7 linked regions of the Homo sapiens genome follow. The protein of the gene in region 6 purifies or fractionates together with the protein of the main gene of each other region. This does not show direct contact. Each region holds a gene or a part of one and is shown on either strand. Other genes may lie near its edges. The genes, in order: MFAP3, PDK3, ZNF445, GMCL1, SEPTIN7, SYT12 and NXPE3.

What was found.
Region 1: the proteins of SYT12 (region 6) and MFAP3 purify together in Homo sapiens (affinity purification with mass spectrometry; 2 studies listed by BioGRID and IntAct, with this or other methods). This does not show direct contact.
Region 2: the proteins of SYT12 (region 6) and PDK3 purify together in Homo sapiens (co-immunoprecipitation; 3 studies listed by BioGRID and IntAct, with this or other methods). This does not show direct contact.
Region 3: the proteins of SYT12 (region 6) and ZNF445 purify together in Homo sapiens (affinity purification with mass spectrometry; 2 studies listed by BioGRID and IntAct, with this or other methods). This does not show direct contact.
Region 4: the proteins of SYT12 (region 6) and GMCL1 purify together in Homo sapiens (affinity purification with mass spectrometry; 2 studies listed by BioGRID and IntAct, with this or other methods). This does not show direct contact.
Region 5: the proteins of SYT12 (region 6) and SEPTIN7 purify together in Homo sapiens (co-immunoprecipitation; one large-scale study listed by IntAct). This does not show direct contact.
Region 7: the proteins of SYT12 (region 6) and NXPE3 purify together in Homo sapiens (affinity purification with mass spectrometry; 2 studies listed by BioGRID and IntAct, with this or other methods). This does not show direct contact.

Annotation. Positions count from the first base shown.
Region 1 is NC_000005.10:154,045,467-154,048,966, reverse strand, and holds part of MFAP3 (microfibril-associated glycoprotein 3 isoform 1 precursor), read right to left. Parts: intron 1-3,500. UniProt on the Homo sapiens protein: Component of the elastin-associated microfibrils.
Region 2 is NC_000023.11:24,471,786-24,475,285, reverse strand, and holds part of PDK3 (pyruvate dehydrogenase kinase, isozyme 3 isoform 2 precursor), read right to left. Parts: intron 1-3,500. UniProt on the Homo sapiens protein: Inhibits pyruvate dehydrogenase activity by phosphorylation of the E1 subunit PDHA1, and thereby regulates glucose metabolism and aerobic respiration. Can also phosphorylate PDHA2.
Region 3 is NC_000003.12:44,453,671-44,457,170, forward strand, and holds part of ZNF445 (zinc finger protein 445), read right to left. Parts: intron 2,027-3,500; 5' UTR 1,880-2,026; coding exon 1,451-1,879; intron 1-1,450. UniProt on the Homo sapiens protein: Transcription regulator required to maintain maternal and paternal gene imprinting, a process by which gene expression is restricted in a parent of origin-specific manner by epigenetic modification of genomic DNA and chromatin, including DNA methylation.
Region 4 is NC_000002.12:69,867,660-69,871,159, reverse strand, and holds part of GMCL1 (germ cell-less protein-like 1), read right to left. Parts: intron 3,462-3,500; exon of another isoform or gene 3,359-3,461; intron 1,442-3,358; coding exon 1,296-1,441; intron 1-1,295. UniProt on the Homo sapiens protein: Possible function in spermatogenesis. Enhances the degradation of MDM2 and increases the amount of p53 probably by modulating the nucleocytoplasmic transport.
Region 5 is NC_000007.14:35,807,557-35,811,056, forward strand, and holds part of SEPTIN7 (septin-7), read left to right. Parts: intron 1-3,500.
Region 6 is NC_000011.10:67,026,134-67,029,633, reverse strand, and holds part of SYT12 (synaptotagmin-12), read right to left. Parts: intron 2,118-3,500; exon of another isoform or gene 1-2,117. UniProt on the Homo sapiens protein: Synaptic vesicle phosphoprotein that enhances spontaneous neurotransmitter release but does not effect induced neurotransmitter release. Unlike other synaptotagmins, it does not bind Ca(2+) or phospholipids.
Region 7 is NC_000003.12:101,820,711-101,824,210, reverse strand, and holds part of NXPE3 (NXPE family member 3 isoform 1 precursor), read right to left. Parts: intron 2,808-3,500; coding exon 2,257-2,807; 3' UTR 1-2,256.

The sequences.
Region 1 (3,500 bases), on a different chromosome or scaffold from region 6:
ACATAAATAGAGTTATTGACTTCTAAAGCTATGGAACCTCCTTCATGGGCAAGAACATTAGACAACAGAATTTTCTTTTAATAGTTTCTCCAATACGAAGAGACAAAGTACAGTGTATTTAATAGTTTGTAAGCATACCAAATTTCTAGCTCAAACTCTGTAAACTAGCTAAGGGAGGAACTGACATCTTAAGTGTCTAGTTAGTAGAAATGCAAATATAAAACTACAGGGACAGATTGTTAGACACATTTAAAAGAAGAGCAAAATATCTTGAATAAAAGGCAAAATAACATCCTAGTCCAAAAGTCTATGTATTTATGATCACCTTCCTGGTAATTTGACTCCCCCTTTAAGCCACCAACTCTCAAAGAAAAAATTCAACTTTTATTTCTATAAAATATGGGATGAAATGCCTAGCTTTATGTCTTATAAAGCACCAAGATAATTAGTTTTGGAAATGACATTTACTCTCCTTTATATTTATATGAAGGCTGCTTGATCACAGAACATAAAAAACAATGAATCACTGTATTTTGCCATTAAATATCTCAAAGTCTAAATTACAATACGGTGCAAATGTCATTTAATTTTCATTAATTAACCCTTGAAAGGATGGTTGAATGGTGACAAATACTTTTCTAAATCTTTACAATTTAAGGATGGGGTATACAGAGTAAAATAAAAAACCTTCAGACTTTGGCAATACATGACACACTAAACGTGTTTATTTCCATTTCCTCCTAAAACCGCACAAAAAGGACACTAAAGGAAACAAAGACTTAGGCAGAGAGGGGATTTTGGAAGTAATATAATCTAATTGATTCAGTGCACAGTGATTTGCTTCTTACGACATGCTACAAGTTAGTAGGAGAATCTAGTTTGGAATACAGTCTCTTTTTTAAGAGGGGGTGATGGGTAGAAACAATGGAAATAACATTTATTGAATGACTGCCATCAGCCAAGCACTGTGCTAGGGGCTTGACATGTAAGTTTCCAAGCTCTTTTTCACTGCAAGATATACAGCAATTGGAGGACATAATTTTGTACTTTATTCTAGATTAGTGGTTCTCAACGGTGACAGGCTATGAGTGTGCTGAAAAAATGCTCCAGGCTTTCTCCAGAACTTTGATTAGGAGTTCCTATAGCTTCATCCAGGGCAGCACTTCCCAAACTTCATTCATTCCTTCTCCTGTCTTTTTTGTTGTTGTTGTTTTTACTATATCCATGAACCAAATTATCGTCATTTCTGCTTTTCTTTTAAATCAACTCATTTTATTTTTACTTTCACATTTATTTAAAAAGGAAACTCTACATCAGTTCTGTGGACAAATGTAACCGTACACATAAACATAATGAAAACAAAGAAGTGTTATTAGCTTCCAGAGATACTACTGCCTGCTGAAAGGCTTTGAGCTGGAGGCTTGCTCTCTCTGTAGTAAAACCAAAACCAAAACAAAAAGCCCCCCACAACTCCAGTTTATTTTAATGCCACCTCATTTCTTAACCTGCCATCTCCTTCCTTTCTACTCTTCCCCACCACTGAGTTTGAGATCGGAGGGATACATTTTCATATACTGAACAGTATCTATTGAGCACCTACCATGTGCCTACCTACTGCCCCATAGACATTGTCTCGGCCTCCACGAAGTTCAGTCTGGCAGATGATGGACACTAACTACATATATACAAAATAAACTCAATGTTACCCAAGGGAAAATACAGATGCTACAGGAGGACCCAACATGGGGAGTTAATCTCATCATGGAAAGCCTCTGAGAAAAAGAGGTGTGCAGCACCTATTCTTCAGGTGCAGGACCTGAAGAATAAAGAGGAATAAAAATTGGGAGGAAAGCACTCAAGGTAGAGGGCCAGGAGACAGGGAAAAATGAGAGGGGTCACTGGTCAGGAGTTGTTCACAAAAAACAGCTAAAAAATTGTGGTAAAGACAGGCAGTGGCCAAAAATGCTGCGTCTGATTCCTGATTCTGGAGGAGAACTAACTGGGCCAATGGTGAAACTGGAGATAGACTCCGGAAGCTGCAGTGGCTGAAGTGAGTGAGGGAGATATTCGTCCATGATGAAGACGTCAAACAACTGAGAGGCTCAAACGTGGGCAGATCACCTGGGGGTATGGTCACATCCCCCCAGGATCAAAGTAGCTAGTGTAGAAGAAACTGGAAAGAAAGGAAATGGATTCGGTCTTCCTGCTCTGAGATTCAGGAACTTCAGCAGAATGAACAGCTGTCACAGGCGAGGGCTGCAGGGCAATGAGTGTCCTCACCAACACAAGGCTTGGCAAAGCATAACTCCCACATGGAATTCTGCCTTCCCGCAAACTTCCTGAACCTCCTATCAAGGCCTTAGCTATTCCTCCTACATAAATTCAGAGTATAGCTGTATAAAGGATGGCTTCTCCTTCACCCCAGAGCCCTCCCCACCTACCGTACTCATCTGGCGCTGGTATATGCTGCTCTGTACTGCTAGGCAGTCTATCCCATCTCAACTACCCCTTAAGAACAAGGCCTATATTTTTTATTGCTGTACGTCATAACTAGCACATGCTCAATAAATATTGATGGAGATTAGTTTAAATTTGATTCAGTATGTGACAGATCTTTATAAATTGAATAATGTTATGCAACAGGGATTATAATTGTTCAAACTGACATACAGTTGCCTATTATAAATTCTCTGAAACAAAAACAGTCAATGCTAACAATCTTGGAAGACCTTAAAAGTACCTAATTAAATGCATTCTTCCGACTCCCAACCTGATACCTTCATTTACCATGTTGTCCTAGAGGATAATGGTAGGAATAAAAGATCACCAAGTGCAGTTTCCAAACCAGGTTGAATATCACAACTGTCAGGAGAGCTTTTTAAAAATATGGATTCCCAGGTCCCAACCCAGAACGAGTAAGAAACTCTGTGTTTGCGCCTTGGAATTTATGACTTTTAATTGGCTCCCTGGGTGTTTCTGAGGCATTGGATTCATGTACTGCATCTAAGGGCCACTAATACAGTTCCTCAATTTCCTCTGCAACTGACCTGCAGAATGGTGCTTCAGGCTATTTGAATATTTCCAATGAGAGATATAATCACTCACATTCCATTCTAGATTTAGATTACTCTAGATCAGCAAAATTGAAGGTCTCTAATAAGAGCAGGGTAGCAGAGAGGTTCAGAGTATAGGATTCAAATACGATCTGTGACTCTAACCAGCCTTGCAACTTTTATAAATGACTTAATCTCCCTGCCTCAGCCCCTCATCTTTAAAATGGGCAAAATAACAGAATCTATTCTCACAGGATTATTGCAAAGTCTGAATGAGGTAGTATACATAAAACACAGAGTCTGGCAATGGTAATCACTGAATAAGCTCTATTATTATTGTTCATGGTTCTTTCAGATATTGAACTAAAATTTACATTTGATAGTTACATCATTATAAAACACTCAGAATACCATGCAACCATTTAAAAATCTTGGGGGTTGGGGGGA
Region 2 (3,500 bases), on a different chromosome or scaffold from region 6:
TAATTCTGAATAGTTGATCCCTTTCTCCAAACAGGTTGGTCTAATTCTTGGTGACACCTTGTAGCAGAAAAACTACTGCTTACAGGGAAAAAAAAAAAAAATCTGTCATTTACATATGTAAAGGTACAAAATAAACACACTCGGAAGCAGAATGAGATTGTTTTTCCCTTTTCCTAACATAATTTTTTTAAAAACCTTTCCATTTTCTCCAAGAACGCAATCACTGTTGTCCCCAGTGGTGATCAGGCTTCAAGGAGCAAAATGACTTAAAAAGCCAAGACTTTGCGAAAGGGAGTCATTTGGAACCAAAGTATCTCCAAAGTATCTTAAAATATGTTCTAAAGGAAAAGAAGATGGCTGGGCCCTTAAACTTTAAGAATAGTAAGAATGCGGAAACTGGCCGCTACCTTCTAAGAGCTAAAGGCTCTGAGGTTCACAGAGCCGGTGTGATTATGACAGAAATCAAAATATTTAGTTTTGTGAAAAGACGGCAGGGCTATCAGCAATCTGCTTTCTGGTGGTTTTGAGAGATGCTATATTTACACATGGGGACACTATGGAAGTTTAAACTTGGCTGGGCACAGTGGCTCACGTCTGTAATCCCAACACTTTGGGAGGCAGAGGCGGGTGGATCACCTGAAGTCAGGAGTTCGAGACCAGCCTGGCCAAGACGGTGAAACCCCGTCTCTGCTAAAAATACAAAAATTAGCCGGGCGTGGTGGCGCATGCCTGTAGTCCCAGGTACTCGGGAGGCTGAGGCACGAGAACTGCTTGAACCTGGGAGGCGGAGGTTGCAGTGAGCCGAGATGGTGCCACTGCACTCTAGCCTGGGCGACAGAGTGAGACTCCGTCTCAAAATAAATAAATAAATAAATAAATAAATAAATAAATAAATAAATAAAATAAACTTATATAACTGACTAAATGAAAGTGGCATAATGTTTAATAACCTCGATATGGAGTCAGGCATGCCATCAGTAATTGCCATTTATGGAGCACCTGCTCTGTGCAGAGCAAGCTGAGCTGAGGAAGCTGTAAGAGGTTACAAAAAAGAGGTGAGCGCCTGCCCTTTGGAAAGAGACAATTGAGGATAAAATCTAAGAAAAGGAGGCAGGAGCAAAATCTCTTTAATGCAAGTGTGGCTGTGCAAAAGTAACTGGAAAATCAAACAAATGGGACGTCAGTCTGCAGGGAGGGGAGAAAAGTGGTTAATATGGGAACCAGAAGCCGACAGGGCGAGACTGAAAGATGAAAAGCAAGTCCAAAAGAAAATGTGAATCATTTCCTACCAACTCATTCAACATTCAGAAGGTTCTATCTTTATGCCATAATAGTCCAAGTTCTCCTTTTCTTATATAATTAAGAGAATTTTTAATTTATCACAACTGCTTAAGGGAAAGAGAACTCAAATTTGTGCAAATATAACAAGGAGCCACCATAACATTAACTGCCAGTCAAAAACAATACATTGATCCAAAAATCCAGAGAGGTTTATAGAAAAAAATATGGAACAAGACATGTGAAAGTTATATTTCAGGAAATAAATTCAGGCCAGGCACGGTGACTCATGCCTGTAATCCCAGCACTTTGGGAGGCAGAGGCGGGTAGATCACCTAAGGTCAGGAGTTCGAGACCAGCCTGGGCAATAGGGCAAAACCCCGTCTCTACTAAAAATACAAAAATAAGCCAGGCGTGGTGGCAGACACCTGTAATCCCAGCTACTCGGGAGGCTGAGGCAGGAGAATCACCTGAACCCGGGAGGCAGAGGTTGCAGTGAGCCAAGACCAAGCCGTTGCACTCTGGCCTAGGTGACAGAGTGAGACTCTGTCTCAAATAAGTAAATAAATAAATAAATAAATTCAACAAATGTGTGGTTGGTTTTTTTGTTTTTGTTTGTTTGTTTGTTTTGTTTTTTGAGACGGAGTCTCACTCTAGCCAGGCTGGAGTGCAGTGGCGCAATCTTGGCCCACTGCAACCTCCACCTCCCAGGTTCAAGTAATTCTCCTGCCTCAGCCTCCCGAGTACCTGGGACTATAGGCGCCCACCACCATGCCTGGCTAATTTTTGTATTTTTAGTAGAGACGGGGTTTCACCACGTTGGCCAGGATGGTCTCAATCTCTTGACCTCGTGATCCACCCACCTCGGCCTCCCAAAGTGCTGGGATTACAGGCGTGAGCCACTGCACCCAGCCAATAAATGTTTATTCTGAACATTAAAATGTGATGTTTTCATTGCTCCCAATAAGGAATTAACATATATTATCTGAAGCCACACTGTCCAATATAAATATGTGAGCCAGGCCAGGGGCTGTGGCTCATGCCTGTAATCCTAGCACTTTGGGAGGCTGAGGTGGGCAGATCACCTGAGGTCGAGAGTTCAAGACCAGCCTGACCAACATGGAGAAACCCCATCTCTACTAAAAATACAAAATTAGCTGGGCATGTAGGCGCATGCCTGTAATCCCAGCTACTTGGGAGGCTGAGGCAGGAGAATCACTTGAACCTGGGAGGCGGAGGTTGCGGTGAGCCCAGATCGCACCATTGCACTCCAGCCTGGGCAACATGAGCAAAAACTCCGTCTCACAAAAAAAAAAAAAAAAAAAAAAAAAAGAAAGAAAGAAATATGTAAGCCATATATATAATTTAAAATTTCCTAGTAGCCACATTAACATAAAAAAGAAATAAAGTTTTTGATAATATTCCATTTAACCCAACATATCTAAAATATTACCATTTCAACATGCAATCAATATAAGATGTACTGATATTTTACTATTTTTATATTAAGTCTTTGAAATCCAGTGTGTATTTTATACTGAAAGCACATCTCAATTCAGAGGCTAAATTTCTATCAGAAATAATTGACCTATAAAGAGATTTCCTAAAATTTACAGGTGATAAAGTGGATTCCATATCCAAGTTATTCTACACAGATGTAAAAATTAACTGCATCAAGTATCCATTTTAAATTTAAATTAAGTCAATTCAGTTTTTCGGCCACACTAGCCACATTTCAAGTGCTCAAAGGTCTCCTGGCTGACAAGTGGTGACCCATATGGGACAAAGGTCTATAGAAATAAAGTAATAACTATAAAGATAACCACTAGAACCAAAAATTCAAGCCTAGTTATTTATTAAAATAAATATGGCAAAACAAAGCAAATATATAACATAGGAAAACTGAGGTATTAAAAACAGAAAGCAACAGAAAATTACAAATGCTTATCATTACAGATGACAGATCTATCATACCAGTAAGTATAAATAGGTTAAACTTACCACATGAAAAAGACTGATTCACAAAGCAAAACCCAACTTTACACTACATTTAGAGACATATTTAGAGCGAAGTAATTCAGAAAAACTGAAAATAAAAGGATGGCAATGCTATCCCAGGAAATGTAAACAAGAAAATAGGGAACTAGATCTCAATGTCAAATAAGGACGAATCCAGGCCAAAAAGCCTTCAACTAGTAAAAGGGCAGCACTCTAATGCTAAT
Region 3 (3,500 bases), on a different chromosome or scaffold from region 6:
AGCATCAGCTCCCCTGTGTGCAGGAGAAGGGCAGGAAGAACGAACGCACTTGAACTGACCAGCTGCTGCTCTCCTGCCAGGCCTGGGACTGCCAACTCTGCCAGGGCCAGGCACATGATAAGCACTTGAATATTTACCGAACAAATTCTCACGATTAAACCATTTCTGCATTTTCTTCTCAACGAACAGAGGCTCTGAAAGGTACAACTATGTGGCCACAGATGTTGAGGTTGTGGAATGAAGTCTAAAATCGAGGTCTTCCTATTTCTCAGCCCAGCTCTGCCCCTCAGCACTCATGACCATCTTCCCTGCCTCCCATCTCACACACATAGAAAAGGTCCTCAAAAGCTTAGTGAGAAGGGCTGGGCACAGTGGTTCATACCTGTAATCCCAGCATTTTGGGAGGCCAAGGCGGATGGATCACCTGAGGTCAGGAGTTTGAGACCAGCCTGGCCAAAATGGTAAAACCTCATCTCTACTAAAAATACAAACAAAATTAGCTGGGAGTGGTGGGGTATGCCTCAAAAAAAAAAAGAAAAGAAAAGAAAAAAAAAAGCTTACTGAGAAGGAAGCTACATGGTGCCTGCAGAGCGCTCTTCTGAGTTTTAACATGTACTCTCCCACTGAGAAGCCAAGAGCCCTAACCCTAAATGCTGTCCCAACACCCACCACTTTACAGGGCTATGGTTAGTCTCAAGTCAAATTAGATAATATGTGGAGATGGACTTTGTATACTGTAAGCCACTGTGTCCAAAGACTAGTTACTGGGCTTTTTTGTTTAGAGATAGGGTCTTGCTGTGTCACCCAGGCTGGAGCGCAGTGGTGCAATCACGGCTCACTGCAGCCTTGACCTAACCTGGGTTCAAGTGATCCTCCCACCTCAGTCCCCCAAGTAGCTGGGACTACAGTCACATGCTACCACATTCAGCTAATTTTTGTAGAAACAGGGTTTTGCCATGTTGCCCAGGCTGGTCACGAATTCCTGCACTCAAGCAATCCGCCCACCTTGGACTCTAAAGTGCTTAGATTACAGGTGTGAGCCACTATGCCTGGCCTAATTTTTAAATTATGTATAGAGACAGTGTGGGGGGGTCCTCCTATGTTGTCCAGGCTGGCTTGAACTCCTGGCCTCAAGCAATCCTCCCACCTCAGCCTCCTAAAGTGCTGGGATTACATGTGTGAGCCACTGTGCCCAGAAGTTGCTGTTATTTATGGAGACTTGCTGACCCTATCTGGAGCTGATATTCCTCTGGGAAGGTAGGAAAGGATACCTGCTAAAGGGTCCGTGGCTCAGGGTCCCGTTCTCAGCTGCTCAGGTACCATGGGAAGAAAGGAAGGCTTCCCCTGCACTCCTCTATATTGACAGTTTAGAGGGCCACCCCCATCCCCAGACAAGCTGGCTCACTAGCAGGCAGAGTTCCCTGGGCACCACACACTTGCTCACACTCACCCTCCAGGATGTCCCATCAAGGTCCCTCTGCAGCTCCTCCAGCAAGGCCACAGCCTCCTCGCCACTCTCAGGGTTATGAAGCTGCACCCAAACCCGGAGCTCCCCAGGCAGGATGCTCAGGAACTGTTCCAGCACCAGCAGCTCTAGGATCTGTGCCTTGGAGAGAACGTCAGGCCTCAGCCACCAGCGACAGAGTTCCCGGAGCCGGCTCAGAGTTTCTAGGGGCCCTGAAGACTCATGGTAGCGAAGCTGTCTGAAGAGCTGGCGGAACAGCTCCTGGCCAGGGCGGTTGAGAGTCTGTGGCCTGGCAGCCTGCACTGGAGTATAGCTTTCATCCTCTTCTTCCTTCTTTACTGTCTGAAGCCGCCCTCGCTCCCTCGAAGACTGGGCCTGAGCTGGATAGGCAGCATGCCACCTGCCTGGAGGCATCACTCCTGTTCAGGGACTAACCAGAAGAGTGCGAACCAAGTCCACCTTAGACGTGGGTCCTCAGAAGTATCTTCTCAGCAGTCAACAATGCCAACATTTGCTGGGACATCAGAAGTCATCAGCAAGTGACTGAAATTACCAGCATTTCTGTGCAGGAGGGGATGAGAGAATAATGTCCATTATACATGGTGCAGTTGGATTCTGCTGGTTGGGATCATCTTTGTATATATAAGAAGAGCGTTTGCACAAAGGTATATGCCAGTATCAAGTAGACCAGAGCTAGGCTGTCCCCTATTGGAGTAAGCTAAGAAAATACCCCACAATAAAACATATACTGAACTTATACATTAAAACTTCGTAAAAAACACAAAGGGATGATGAAAAAAGTCAGAGAAGATCTAAATAAATGAACAGACATACCGTATGCATGTACTGGAAGATGTGACACAGTAAAGATGTAAATTCTCTCCACATTTATCTACAGGTCTAATGCAAATCCTACCAAAATCTCAACAAGATTTTTTGTAGACATAGATAAATTTATGTGGAAAGGCAATGGGATTAGAATAGCTAAAATTATGACAGGTCAGGCATGGTGGCTCACACCTGTAATCCTAGCACTTTGGAAAGCGGAGGTGGGAGGATTGCCTGAGCTCAGGAGTTCGAGACCAGCCTGGGCAACATGGCAAGACCCCGTCTCTACTAAAAGTACAAAAAATGAGCCAGGCATGGTGGTGCGTGCCTGTAATCCCAGCTACTCAGGAAGCTGAGGCACAAGAATCACTTGAACCCGGGAGGCAGAGGTTGCAGTGAACCAAGATCGTGCCACTGCACTCCAGCCTGGGCAACAGAGCAAGGGTCTGTCTCAAAACAAGCAAGCAAGCAAGCAAACAAACAAAACCAAAAAACAATTATGACAAGGAAGAATAAATTGGGAGGGATCAGTCTGAAAACAGTCTACCTGATTTCAAGACTTATAGCTATATTAATCAATTCTGTGTAGTACTGGTGGAGGAAGAGACACATAGGTCAATGGAATAAAATAGAAAAACCAGAAACAGAACCACACAAGAATGCCCAACTGACTTTTTAAATATCAAATGTGATTTTGCTATTATAATATTTTAAAATATCTCAAATGAGCAATTCAAAAACAAAAACAAAAAAATCCTGAGAATCCAATCCCCTAGTTGATTTTACGACCCAACAATGGGTTACAAATTATAATTTGAAAACTACTAATCCAGCTTCCCACTCAACTCTTGTATTTCTTTTTATAATTCATCATAAAATGTGGTGTCCAAGGGTTCAAGTCACTTTCAGGAGGTAATACTTTGGGAGGCCGAAGTGGGCGGACTGCTTGAGGTCAGGAGTTTGAGAACAGCCTGGCCAACATGGCAAAACTCCAGGTCTACAAAAAATACAAAAAATTAGCTGGGCATGGTGGCATGTGCCTATAATCCCAGCTACTCGGGAGGCTGAGGCACAAGAATTGCTTGCGCCTGGGAAGCAGAGGTTTGCAGTGAGACAAGATCGTGGCACTGCACTCTACACTCCAGCCTGGGTAACAGAGCGAGACTCCATCTCAAAAAAGGGACTATCTGGAGTATATTTCGGGCTC
Region 4 (3,500 bases), on a different chromosome or scaffold from region 6:
CCACATTTTGTTTCTCTAGCATCTGTCAGTGAACATGTGGGTTGCTTCCACCTTTTGGCTATTGTGAATAATGCTGTTATGAACATAAGTATACAAAAATATCTGTTTAAGTCCCTATTTTCAATTCTTCTGGTCTATAGAAGAGAAACTGCTGGATCATATGGTAATTCTGTTTAATTTTTTTGAGGAAGTGTCATACCATGCTCCATAGTGGCTGTGCCATTTTACATGGCCACGAGCAGTACACAAGGGTTCTAAATACTCCACATCCTTGCCAACACCTGTTACTTTTGTTGTTTTTTTTCTATTCTGTTTTTACTAATAGCTATCCTAATAGGTGTGAAGTGATAGCTCATTGTGATTTTGGTTTGTATGTCCCTAATTAGTAATGTTGAACATCTTTTCATGTGTTTATTAGCCATTTATATATCTTCTTTGGAGAAATGTTTATGGAAGTCTTTGGCCCATTTTTGAGCTGAGTTGAGTTTTCTTTTTAAATTATAGAGTTGTAGGAGTTTTCTATATATTCTGGGTATTAATGTCTTATCAAATGTAGCGTTACAAATATCTGCTCTCATTCCATGGGTTGCCTTTTCACTGTCTTGACACTGTCCTCTGATACACAAGTTTGTGATTTTGATGAAGTCCAATTTTATCTACTGCTTCTTTTGTTGCCTGTGCTTGGGTGTCTTATGGAAGAAATCACTGCCAAATCAATTGTTATGAAGCTTTTCCCCTATGTTTTCTTCCAAGAGTTTCATAGTTGCAGTTCTTATGCTTAGATCTTTGATCCATTTTAAGTTAATTTTTGTATTTGGTGTAAGGTAAGTATAAATATATGACTTTTAAATCATGTTCATTAAGCTACTGTCCAATTTGTCAGCTTCTGGTATCCTCTCAGAAAAAGATTGCCAGCAACTACTGGGCAAAATTTAACATATTAAATCCTTTAAAAAGTTAAGGATAATATGTGTTTTCCTGGAAACATACCTTGCTACATATTTCAACAGTCTGGATCTTTTATTTGCTAGGAATAGCAACAAGGCAACGACTTCAAGGCTGATATTCCCTACTGGTATATATTCCAGCCTATTCATTCTCCCTGACATACTAGATCCTATGATTCTGATTACTAACAATAGATTTCACAGGAATGGAGCCTCGTCATTTCCTACCACTTCCACATATACTGTAGCTTACCAAAGTTCTACTAATGTTGGTGTAAATTATCAAGGTTTTATTTCTTATATTTTCTCTGGAGTGAGGAGGAGTGGGGTGGGGAAATCTCATCCTACCTAAATGCTATGCTCCTTCGAGGCTGTAAACTGACAGATCCGCTACATGGCTGATTCAGTGTATTGCGTTTGAAAATGATGTATCGATTGGTGTAAGTTACAAGTAGGTCGAAGCCGAAGTTAAAACCTGTCCAACGCCAGCAGTACTAAAAAATACAAGAGAGAAGACTTATTTCAGTTTATCATATTAGCAAGTAGAAAATAAAAAATTCAAAATGTCTTTTTGTCTCTAACTCATTCCAAGTATTTCCCTCATGGGTGGTCGACTTTTTGTCAGTGACTTTTTCTTAAGGCTTACCACCCAAAACTATTTATCTAAGCTAGAAAAGCTGCCCTTAATGATCATAATTCTCTAAGCTACTTTCCTCTTCATGATCAGTTTCCTTATCTCTCCATACTGCAATTCTACCATAAATAATAAGGCTTTTTTTTTTTTTTTTTTTTTTTGAGACAGAGTCTCATTCTGTCACTCAGGCTGGAGTGCAGTGGCATGATCTTGGCTCACTGCAACCTCCACCTCCCGGGTTCAAGCGATTCTCCTGCCTCAGCCTCCCAAGTAGCTGGGACTACAGGTCCCTGCCACCACGCCCGGCTAATTTTTTTTTTTTTTTTTTTGAGACAGAGGTTTGCTCTAGTTGCCCAGGCTGGAGTGCAATGGCATGATCTTGGCTCACCACAACCTCCACCTCCCGGGTTCAAGCGATTCTCCTGCCTCAGCCTCCTGAGTAGCTGGGATTACAGGCATGCGCCAAGCCTGGCTAATTTTGTATTTTTAGTAGAGACGGGGTTTTTCCATGTTGGTCAGGCTGGTCTCGAACTCCCGACCTCAGGTGATCCGCCCGCCTCGGCCTCCCAAAGTGCTGGGACTACAAAGTGTAAGCCACTGTGCCCGGCCTTTTTTTTTTGTATTTTGAGTAGAGACGGGGTTTCACTATGTTGGCCAGGCTGGTCTTGAACTGCTGACCTTGTGATCCACACGCCTCGGCCTCCCAAAGCGCTGGGATTACAGGCGTGAGCCACTGCACCCAGCAATAATAAGGCTTTTCACTGCAACTCTAAGTGGGTATATAGCTTAGAGCACTAAGAGTTTCTAGAGCACTAAGGTAATTAAGAGCCCATTAAAATCCACCTTGCTTTAAAAATACTCTTAAGGGCTGGGTGTGGTGGCTCACGCCTGTAATCCCAGCACTTTGGGAGGCCGAGGCGGGTGGATCACCTGAGGTCTGAGGTTCAAAAACAGCCTGGCCAACATGGCGAAACCCCATCTCTACTAAAAATACAAAAAAGAATAAAAAAAAATAAAAATAAAAATAAAAATAAAATACTCTAACTCAAGTAACACACAACTGGGTTATTTAAATATCATCATGGGGTTCACGAGTTTGTTTATTCTATCAGCTAATAGTTAATGTGAGAGTATCAGATAAGGTAGTGTGATACAGAGAAGTAGTTAGGGCTTCAAGTGTTTGGCTGACACCCTGAATTGCAATTCAGTATTTAACTGATATTTATTGAGCACATATTATATGCCAGGCACTCCTCTAAGCAATGGAATCATAGCAGTAAATAACATACAGTTTCTGCCCTAGTAGAGGTGATAACTGTAAGGGCAAAGCTTTTTTTTTTTTAAAGAGACAGGGTCTCGTTATATTGCCCAGGCTGAACTCTAACTCCTGGGTTCAAGCAATTTTTCCACCTAAGCCTCCCAAGTAGCTGGAATTGCAGGTGCATACCACTGTGCCTGGCTGGAGCAAAGCTTTTGAATAGGTGAGCATGGATAGAGTCCAGTACAAAGAGAGGGAATGGACTAAGATAGAAGTAGGCAGTTCATTTTTCTAATAAGATGAAATGCATAGCGCATAGCTACAGGTGCAGGTAGACTGGCAGAACTACTGGTAAGATGATGTACAGATTCTCTTTTCATTGCAGTAGGCAGCAAGGCCATCAGATAAGAATAAGGGTGGGAGCATTGCCCTTTTAAGGAGAGAAGGTATGAGTTACCTCAGCTAATGGGAGGATCAATTCACTAGGAAAATGCAGACAGATCATGATGCAGCACTAACCTACTTCAAGTTCATGGTTACCACATTCAAGTGGAACCCAATGGGGTACGGTGTTTGTCTTTAATCACATTCATCTGTCTGGATGCAGGCATGGAGTGCAACCCTTGACAAGAGTTGGGGTTTAGCCAGGTGAGTTTAACAT
Region 5 (3,500 bases), on a different chromosome or scaffold from region 6:
GTTTCACTGTGTTAGCCAGGATGGTCTCAATCTGCTGACCTCATGATCCGCCCGTCTTGGCCTCCCAAAGTGCTGGGATTACAGGCGTGAGCCACTGTGCCCTGCCAATTTTTGTATTTTTAGTAGAGACAGGGTTTCTCCACATTGGTCAGGCTGGTCTCGAACTCTCGACCTCAGGTGATCCACCTGCCTTGGCCTCCCAAAGTGATGGGATTACAGGTGTGAGCCACCGCACCTGGTTGCTTTTTAAAAATTTTATTGGGAGGTTTTTTGTTGTTGTTTTGTTTTTTTGAGACGGAGTCTTGCTCTGTCACCCAGGCTAGTGGCATGATCGTGGCTCACTGCAACCTCTGCCTCCTGGGTTCAAGTGATTCTCCTTCCTCAGCCTCCTAAGTAGCTGGGATTACAGGCACATGCCACCACGCCTAGCTAATTTTTGTATTTTTAGTAGAGACGGGGTTTCACCATGTTGGTCAGGCTGGTCTCTCCTGACCTCGTGATCTGCCTGCCTTGGCTTCCTAAAGTGCTGGGATTACAGGTGCAAGCCACCGCACCCAGCCTGGTTTTTTTTGTTGTTGTTTTTTTTAATAGGTAATATAATCACTTGGTTCAAAATTCAAAAGGTTAAACAGAGAGATACAGTGAAATCTCCTTCTTACTTCTACCCCCAAGTCACCCAGTTTCCTAGTCCTCGGCATCCTGTGTTAACAGTTTCTTGTATGTTCTTCCAAAGGTGTTTTTTGCATATGGAAGTTAAAAACATTTATCCTTCCTGCCCCCACCCTTGGTAGCATTAAGACACATTATTTCCCACATGTTTTTTTCCAATGAGTGTAATTTGGGTTATTCCGTATCAGTACATAAAGAGCATTCTTATTCTTTTATACAGCTGCATAACCGTTACATGATATCTCAGTCTGTTTGTGCTGCTCCAACAAAATACCTGAGACTGGGTAATTTATAAGGAACAGAAATCTATTTCTTACCATTCTGGAAGCTAGGAAGTCTAAGATCACAGTGCCAGCAGGTTTGGCGTCTCTGCTTCCAAGATGGCACCTTAAATGCTACTTCCTTTGGAGGGAACAAATGCTGTGCCCTAACATAGTAGAAGGAGCAAAAGGGTCAAGCACCTCCCTTGCACCTCTTTTATAAGGTCATTAATCCTATTAATACCATTACTAGTGATTAAGTATCAACATACAAATTTTGGGAGAACACATTAAGACCATAGCATATGGATAGATCATGATATGGGATATATTTTGATTTGTTTAACATGTCTGCCTCTGATAGACATTAATTTCCAGTGTTTTGCTATTACCAACTTTGACATGGTGAGTCACTTGGGATATTGATCTCTTCACATTTGTTAGTGTATCTAACAAATACACTAACTGTTAGTTTTTGAACTCTTTGAAGCAGGAGACTACCACTTAAAAGTTGTAGTATTGACATTGTCATTATATCAATAATGTATTGATGTTATAGTATCATAACATTGATGTTAAGTATTGGTAATATTGCTGTTAAGTCATTAGTTTAGAACTTCAACAATCAAGTTCATTCACTTAACAAATACACGTTTTGTACTTGCTGTGTGCTGGCCACTGGGGAAACTGAATTAAATGCTGTGGCAGTTGAAATAGAGGCATGGTGATTAAGAGTTTTCGGATCTAGAGTCAGACTTGGATTCATATCTCAGTTCTAAAGCTTAACTGAACCTTTGGCAAATAACAGAACTTCTATTTTTCCTTCTCTGTAATGTGGGAATCATAAGGTTATTGGAGAAGTAAATGAGATAGTACATGACAAATCCTTAGCATGATGCCTGGCATATAATAAACACTGAGATGTTAGCTTAAAAAAAGTTATCAGACTATATTGCAGTTGACTTTATGTTCTGCCTCCACTGTGCTTAAAGTCTAGGCCTGTGTTTTGTTCACCTTTGTGTCCCCAACCCATAACTGGCTTGCATTTAGTAAAAAATTTGTGATACGATATAAAGGTATGCAGAGCATACAGTGAAAGTTCAAAGCAGGATACCTTTTCCATGCTGGAGAAGGTGAATCTTTGAAAGTCGGTAGGAGTGATTAGGTAAAGGAGGTGAAGGAGTAAAGATAATTATTCTAGACTGAGAAATTATGTTAGTATCAGGTTATGAGGTTAGAAGAGGTAAGTAGGCAACTGGTATTGCTGTGCTGAGAATTTAAAAATCTTTATTGAAGGCTTTAAAAGAAAAGTGGTAATCGTAAGAATCGTGATGATAATTCTCTCTGTTGAGAGTTGACAGGGCACCAGGTTGGAGCCATTAAATTGAAGGAGTTTAATGTAGCAGTTTAGGACTAAAAATTGGTCAGAAGCAGGGCAATGGGAAAGGACATGAGGGGGATGGTTGTAAGGTGTTAGGGAAGATGTGGGTGGTGAGTAATGAGTCCAGAATATTTGAGCTTTCTGACTTGAGTGAATGGGTAGATGAATAGATGCTATTTCTTGAAATAGGTAATTTGAAACATGAAATTGAGAGGCCTGGGGGACATCCAAGTGGACATGTCTTGTAGGGTCTCAATACTAGGAAGACATCTAGGATAGAAAATAAACATTTTCTGATAATTGTAAATGTATTCATTTGTGCTTTGAATTTTTATGTTTAGTAAGTGAGTTTGTGAACAGAGTTGAAGGAAATTACAATAAAGTGATTTGTGTGAAACTTCGTTGTCCTTCAAATATAGACTGAGGTCTCCAGTTTCTGGGGTAGTACTAAAATGTTTCCTTTTTTTTTTTTTTTGAGATGGAGTCTTGCTCTGTCACCCAGGCTATAGTGCAGTGGCGCGATCTCAGCTCATTGCCAGCTCCGCCTCCCACGTTAACGCCATTCTTCTGCCTCAGCCTCCCGAGTAGCTGGGACTACAGGCGCCCGCCACCACACCTGGCTAATTTTTTGTGTTTTTAGTAGAGCCTGGGTTTCACCGTGTTAGCCAGGATGGTCTCAATCTCCTGACCTCATGATCCGCCCGCCTTGGCCTCCCAAAGTGCTGGGATTACAGGCGTGAGCCACCGCGCCCAGCCAGATGTTTACTTATTTAAAATTTCAGCTGGTACGTTTCACAGCAGCAGTTGCTTCAGACTCAGGGTTATGCTAGTGTTTCTTTGCAGGAGTGACATTTTGTATCCTTATATATTGTTATTGTCCATTCAGATTGTAATGAGTTAATGAGTTTTTTTTTTTTTGAGACAGAGGCTCGCTCTGTCGCCCAGGCTGGAGTGCAGTGGTGAGACAGAGGCTCACTGCAACCTCCACCTCCCTGGTTCAAGCAATTCCTCTGCCTCAGCCTCCCGAGTAGCTGGGATTACAGGCACATGCCACCACGCCTGGCTAATTTTTTTGTATTTTTAGTAGAGACGGGGTTTCACCATGTTGGCCAGACTGGTATCGAACTCCTGACCTGAGGCAATCTGCCCACCTTGGCCTCCCAAAGTGCTGGGATTACAGGCATGAGCCA
Region 6 (3,500 bases):
GATCCACCAGCCTTGGTCTCCCAAAGTGCTGAGATTACAGGTGTGAGCCACAGCGCCTGGCCAAATTTCAAATACGTTTTTAATATGTGTGTCCCAAATATTCCACAGGACATATTTACGCCAAAATCTTTTCCATTGTTCATCCAAAACATCAATGCTCCTGGGTGTCCTGTTTTTGTATTTGCCAAATCTGGCAACCCCAGCTCATTTCCATCCTAACAACATCAGGCTGACCAGCGGCGACGCAGTAGGTGACTCATTAGAGCAAGGCCCCCCTGGCTTGAGCCAGAGCCTTCCTTCAAATGCTTCCATTTTGATTGGGAAGGAAAGGCTGCGTGTCTGCAATATTCTATTATCAGTCCTTTCACTGCTTGGCATGGTTTCTTCCCCACCCCATCCTCCACCCCCAGCTTTTAGGAATGACTGAGGCTTAAGTTGTTCTAGAAAGGTCTGGGAGCTCGTACAACCCATTACCTGAACCTAGGTGACTGCTCATTGTTTTATTAGTGTGCTAAGAAGTAAATCTGGCTCACAGATGTGTTCTAAGTGGGTGTATGTGGGAGTCCTGGAAAAAGGAATTTGGGATGGGCTGCACTGATCTCAGGTCAAGGGCACCGAGGGCCAGGATAATGCCCACCCCAATTTCTGGATTCCCTTGTAGTTCAGAGAGGTGGTTACACATGGTAAGCCTGCAGGCCTGGTGCAGGGTGGTAGGGCAAGGGGAAGGGGAGGTAAGAACTGCAGAGTGATGGCCTGGCCCAAGGGCAGCTGCATTTTTGCCCCAGCAGGAATGCCAACCACCGTGGCTTGATCTTCTGGCACTTTAAAGAAAAGCCAGATACCTGAATTTTTTATGTGCCATTTCCTGAGTTTTAAAGGTAGCAACCAATTTGCAAAAAAATGCAAACACCATTCAGACGCAGTATAAAAAGTCCTTGGGGAGTGTGACCCACCAATTCCCAACCCCTCGGAGCATCCTGTAGGTTCCCTTTGGGACTGGGGTCGAATCAGAGGGTAAAGCTAAGGCCCTCCACATTTTCAGGAATTCCGGGGTTCTCCCCAGTCTGTGGCTTTGGAGTCAAGAAGCTTCGGTGCCATGCTCCAGTCAGGGTTATCCAGCACATTTGGGGTGCCATAAGTCCTAGTCTACCCCCTTAAGTCCTGGAGGTGCCCAGGAGCCTCTAGAAGCAGGTCAGATAAGGTGCACAGCCAGCTCCTGGCTTCCAGTTCTCCTGATGCTGCCCCCACTCCCACAAGGAGATGTGCGTTGTCATGGTGATGGAAGGGTGGTGCTAAGCCAGGAAGGGCTTCACCCATCCTGACTAGAGTGGAAGCTCATTCCTGGGCCTGGGCTGGAGATAATGATAGTAATAGAGAACCTTGTCGAGCCCTTCTTACACATCAAGCGCCATTCTAAGCACTTTGCATTTATCTGACCTCATTTAATTTGCCTAACAGCCCCATGAGGTAGGTACTATTATTATCTCTGGTTTGCGGGTGAGAGTCCCAGGGCGTAATTTGCCCCAGGCCACACAGCTAATAAACTGTTCAACCCAGGCCAACTGGCTCCATGCTCCTAACCACTGTGTCTCACTGCAAGTGGGCATATGGTTTCCAAAAAGTTTCCTAAGAATCTGCAGGTCAAATGGGTCACCATGTACCTGCCCAAGGTGGTCCTAGCTCCTGGCGGAAGCTGGTCTGGATACGCTGAAACACATGCTAATGTACACACACGCACCTCCCAGCCTGCTTCTGCCTTGCCGGGAATCAGATAAGCCATCGGCTTTTTCCTGCTTACCTGGCACAAGCTGACTTTGCAAGAGTGGGGCCAAGCTGGGACAGCCAATGCCCGCAGCACGCGAGCAAGGTATGCATGGCAAAGTACACCCCACAGCACAACAGGCGTGGTACGGGACAAAGCCTCAAGCTGCATCTGGCCTCTGGCTGTCGGGGGCCCCATCACCTCCATGGCTGGCCCAGCTCAGACCCCAGACTCCCACGCTGTCTGTTCTTTCCTCTCCCTTTAACACGACATCCTTTCCCAGGGAGCTGAGATTTCAGTGAGGGTGTGAATGACTGCTAGGCACACCCCAGACAGAAGTTCCTTCTTTTTTTTTTTTTTTTTTTTTTTTTTGAGACAGAGCCTCACTGTGTCACCCAGGCTTGAATGCAATGGCGCGATCTCAGCTCACTGCAACCTCTGCCTCCTGGGTTCAAGTGATTCTCCTGCCTCAGCCTCCCAAGTAGCTGGGATTACAGGCATGAGCCACCATGCCCAGCTAGTTTTTGTATTTTCAGTAGAGACGGGGTTTCATCATGTTGGCCAGGATGGTCTTGAACTCCTGACCTCAATGATCCTCCCATCTTGGCCTCCCAAAGTGCTAGGATTACAGGCGTGAGCCACCGCCCCTGGCCTCCAGACATATGTTCCAGCCTGGTGCCCTGTGAAGGCAGAGCTCATTTGCCTGAGTGGAGGGAGAAGAGAACTGGGAGAGAGGTCGAGGCTCCTAGAGGGTGTCATCCTGAGCACAGGGTTTGTAGTCAGCTGCACCCAGCTCTGACTCCCATACCTGCCCCTGGCTAGCTGCAGTGGCCTTGGGTAATTTTCTTAGTCTCTTAGAGCCTCAGTTCCCCACCTGTAAAGCAGATGTGAGGCTGCCAGGAGGGTGGAATGAGAAGGTACGTGTAGTCAGGCTTGGCACATATTGGTTGCTGTGGTTAGCAGCCTGGTGATGGCCCATACAGACCCCCTAACCCCTAGTCTGGGCAGTGTGGGCAGCACTGCCAGCCTACAGATGTGTTTATTTGTCTTACATTTAAGTGAGTTGCCAACATTTTAAAATTGAAAAATTTAGCTGGGTGCAGTGGGTCATGCCTGTAGTCCCAGCTACTGGGGAGGCTGGTGTGGGAGGATCTCTTGAGCCCAGGAGTTCAAAACCAGTCTGGACAACATAGTGAGACTGTGCCTCAAAAAAAAAGTGTGTGTGTGTGCGGGGAGAGTTTCCCATTAAAAATTGATTTAAAAAGGATTTCCAGCTTCCCTTTGAAAATTAGAAGATCTGGCCGGGCGCGGTGGCTCAGGCCTGTAATCCCAGCACTTTGGGAGGCCGAGGCAGGCGGATCACCTGAGTTCGGGAGTTTGAGACCAGCCTGACCCACACGGAGAAACCCCATCTCTGCTAAAAATACAAAATTAGCCGGGCTTGGTGGCACATGCCTGTAATCCCAGCTACTTGGGAAGGCTGAGGCAGAAGAATCGCTTGAACCTAGGAGGTGGAGGTTGCAGTGAGCCAAGATCGCACCACTGCACTCCAGCCTGGGCAACAAGAGCAAAACTCCATCTCAAAAAAAAAGAAAGAAAAGAAAAAAAGAAAGTTAGAAGATATGGGGACAATGGGTTTGCATCCCCCGACTCCAACAGGAGTTGGAGCTAAGTCGGCATTGCCCCTTCCCTGGCTGCTCCCATCCTTCCATTCACTGCTAGAACCTGTTGAGCCCTG
Region 7 (3,500 bases), on a different chromosome or scaffold from region 6:
AGTGTGGAATACCACCATTGCATCAGAATCACTGAGCACTCGCCACAAAGGTTGGTTTCATAAATCCCAGAGGCATCATGGTCCCTCTTTTTTTTTTTTTTTTTTTTTTAGAGACAGGGTCTTGCCCTGTTGCCCAGACTGGAGTACAGTGGCACAATCAAGGCTCACTGCAACCTCTGCAACCTTCTGCCTCCTGGGCTCAAGCAATCCTCCCACCTCAGCCTCCTAAGTAGCGGGGACTACAGGTGGTGCCACCACACCCAGCTAGTTTTTGTATTTTTTTGTAGAGATGGGGTTTCACCATGGCACCCAGGCTGGTCTTGACCTTCCGGGCTCAAGCAATCCGCCCACCTCAGCCTCCCGAGACTATAATCCCTGCTGGGATTACAGATGTGAGCCAACATCCCTGGCCTTAATTCTTTTATTATTTAACAAAAATTTTTTAGAGATAAGATCTCTTGTCTGTTGCCCAAGTGGGAGTGTAGTGGCGCAATCATAACTCACTGCAGCCTCAAACTACTGGGCTCAATCAATCACCCTGCCTTAGCCTCCCTAGTAGCTGGGACTGTCGGCCCACACCTGGATAATTTTTTATTTTTTGTAGAGATGAGGTCTTACTATGTTGCCCAGGCTGGTCTCAAACTCCTGGCCTCAAGCAATCCTCCTGCCTGGCCTCCCAAAGTGCTGGGATTACAGGCTTGAGCTACCACACCCTGCCATGACTCTTTAATTCTGCATTTTTGTCAGATACTACAAGTGATCCTTAGGTACTGTAAAGCGTAAGGACCATTAAAATTAAACTATTTTAATATATTTTATTACCTCATTAGGCTCAGAAACAATTAAAAATCTTCTTTCCCCCTAAAATACTTTAAAAACTTGAAGGTGTTCCTCAAGGACAGGAAAGTAAGATCTGGGGCCCTCCTATTTTAAATTAAAAACCCAAATTATTTGACCCATTCTTCTAAGGGTATATATTGTTCATACTTCAAGCATCTGTCTTCCTCTCTAAAGCCTCCCTAGTTTCTTCATCTGTCTACTTAGGAGCAACTTAAACTAGACTATAATCTATCACAGCTCAAAAAGAAAAGAGTACTTACTAAATGATCCCAAATTAAACTCGTTTAAAATTAATAAGTCAAATAAAATTAATAATTCCATTCTTCTTAGATAGCCAGTAGGAATAGCAGCTTCTTCCAAGCATGAGAGAATGGGTGTGCCTTTTATGCCCAAATCAAGAAATACCAAAAAACAAACAAACAAACAAACAAAAAACTGTCATGAATTTTAGTATCTTATTAATTTCTAATTAGATTTTAACTTCTAATTTTGGTAAGTAGTTCAAAATAACAACAACAACAACAAAAAAAAAAACACCTGAAACTAGTGGAAAAAACTTCCACAGCTTTATAATATCGTAGCATTCTTTACACAAAAGTCAATTCCTAAACCCTCAAATTTCAGAACATAAAAATAAATTTCCATTTACAGATTTCCCCCTTCCAGTTCCAAAAGTAGTTATTCTAGAGTAAGTATTCAACACATAAAATTTAGCTGAATCAAATAAAAAACAATCACCAAATGCAAATATCAATTCCAAAGCACAGATTTTATATATACTGCTTTCATATTTCCCTTTTGCTTCTTTTCTAGATAAAAGCAGGAAATTGTAAATATTCACTAAAAAACTCGAACCAAGCACATTGGCCTTTTCAAGTAATTCAGAAAAGGTAGATCATCAAGAGAAACTCCTGAGACACAGCAGTCTTCAGTGCATTCACAAGAGCCTCTGACTATAAGCTTTCTCTAGTTAACCGCCAGAAGATGGATTACTTGTGCTATGCATGCAGATGCACTCAATTTCCTTTACCAGATAAGCTACAAACACTCTACTACCAACCAAACTTGTCCCTTCCATCAAAACATTTTTCATACTCTTTAGCAAAGTAGTCACCCCTCCTAGGAGAAGCTAATTCAAATACACTCATTAGCATCTTTGGTTACAAGAGCAATATAGTGTGTAGATGCAGTTAAGAGTTCTACCATGGCTAAGTCAACATTGGATAAAATCCTATAGGTAGATATAAATGTAACCTGCATTTTCTAAGCTCCTTATAAGTCATCATATTAAGTCCAGATCTTTTTGAAATTTTATACTTATTAAGGGCAGTCATCTCTCACTGGGGCCACTTTCTGTAACTCAGGTCAATTGAGAAGGTCATTGAATATGATTCCTCCAGTCCCTTCCAAGACAGGCTAGGTTTCCAAGGGGCACACAAAGGACAAGAACATGTCCAGCTGGTTCTTCACAATAACTTCATCTGGATGCAGCTTGTGCGGTAGATAATGGGCCAGGGTCATCTCCCAGGCATCGACGAGATATACTCCAACCCCTGAGAACATCCTCCGAAGGATGGTGTCCAGCTGAAAGTTGTACCAGTCGCTGTTGAAAAGGCTCACCTCAGGTCCCAGCTCTTGGGCGTTGGCCGTCCGGATGACCACCACGGTCTTTGGGCTTCGATCGAGGAGCCGAACCACTGCTCGACGGATGTTCCTGAGCCGCCGGATGTACACTTCCAAAGGGAAGGTGCTGAAGTGAGACCATACAGCTATGGCAACCACTGTGTTCTTCCCTCCCACAATGCCATTCAGCTCATTCGCCACATAATGGAGCTCATTGCTAAAGACAGTCGTGAAGCGGATGGGTGGACCATGGCAGCGGTATTTGAGCAGGATGTTGTGCTTCTGGTCCACTGCAAGGAAGGGACCCACATTCTTGGGACTACCCAAGTTAAACTCCACTAAATCTGAAACAAGGAAAACTCAAGTTCATAAAAACCTTCAAACCAAGCACATATATTTTGATTATACCTTATTAAGTGGCTTCAAATAACAATTTTTTTTTAAGTACAACAAAAAGGTACAATATAAATGTAAAGGGAATACCTATTTCACTGAACTCTGCCCCCTTTTGTATCAATGGGCCTTTATTCTAACATGTTTATTATTTAAATTATTACATAAACATAACATTCATTATAAATAACACCATCAGTGATAGACTCTACACTACACCTGTCTATGCCTGAAAAACAAAATAACCCATTTTTCTCTAATTATTAGGCCAAGAAATGTTGCTATTTGCACTGATCATTGCAATCTTTTTTATCTATGTCTAAAAAGTTTGGGTTTTTTTACTTTTATTTTAGGTTTGGGAGTGCACGTAAAGGTTTGTTACATAGGAAAATGTGTCACATATTATTTCATCACCCAGGTTTTAAGCCCAGTACCCAATAGTTACCTTGTCTGCTCCTCTCCTTCCTCCCAACTCCCCCACTCAAGTAGACCCCAGTGTCTACTGTTTCCTTCTGTGTGTTCATAAGTTCTTATCATTTAGCTCCCGCTTATAAGTGAGAACATGCAATATTTGGTTTTCTGTTCCTGTGTTAGTTTGCTAAAGATAATAGCCTCCAGCTCCATCCATGCTCCCACAAAAGATA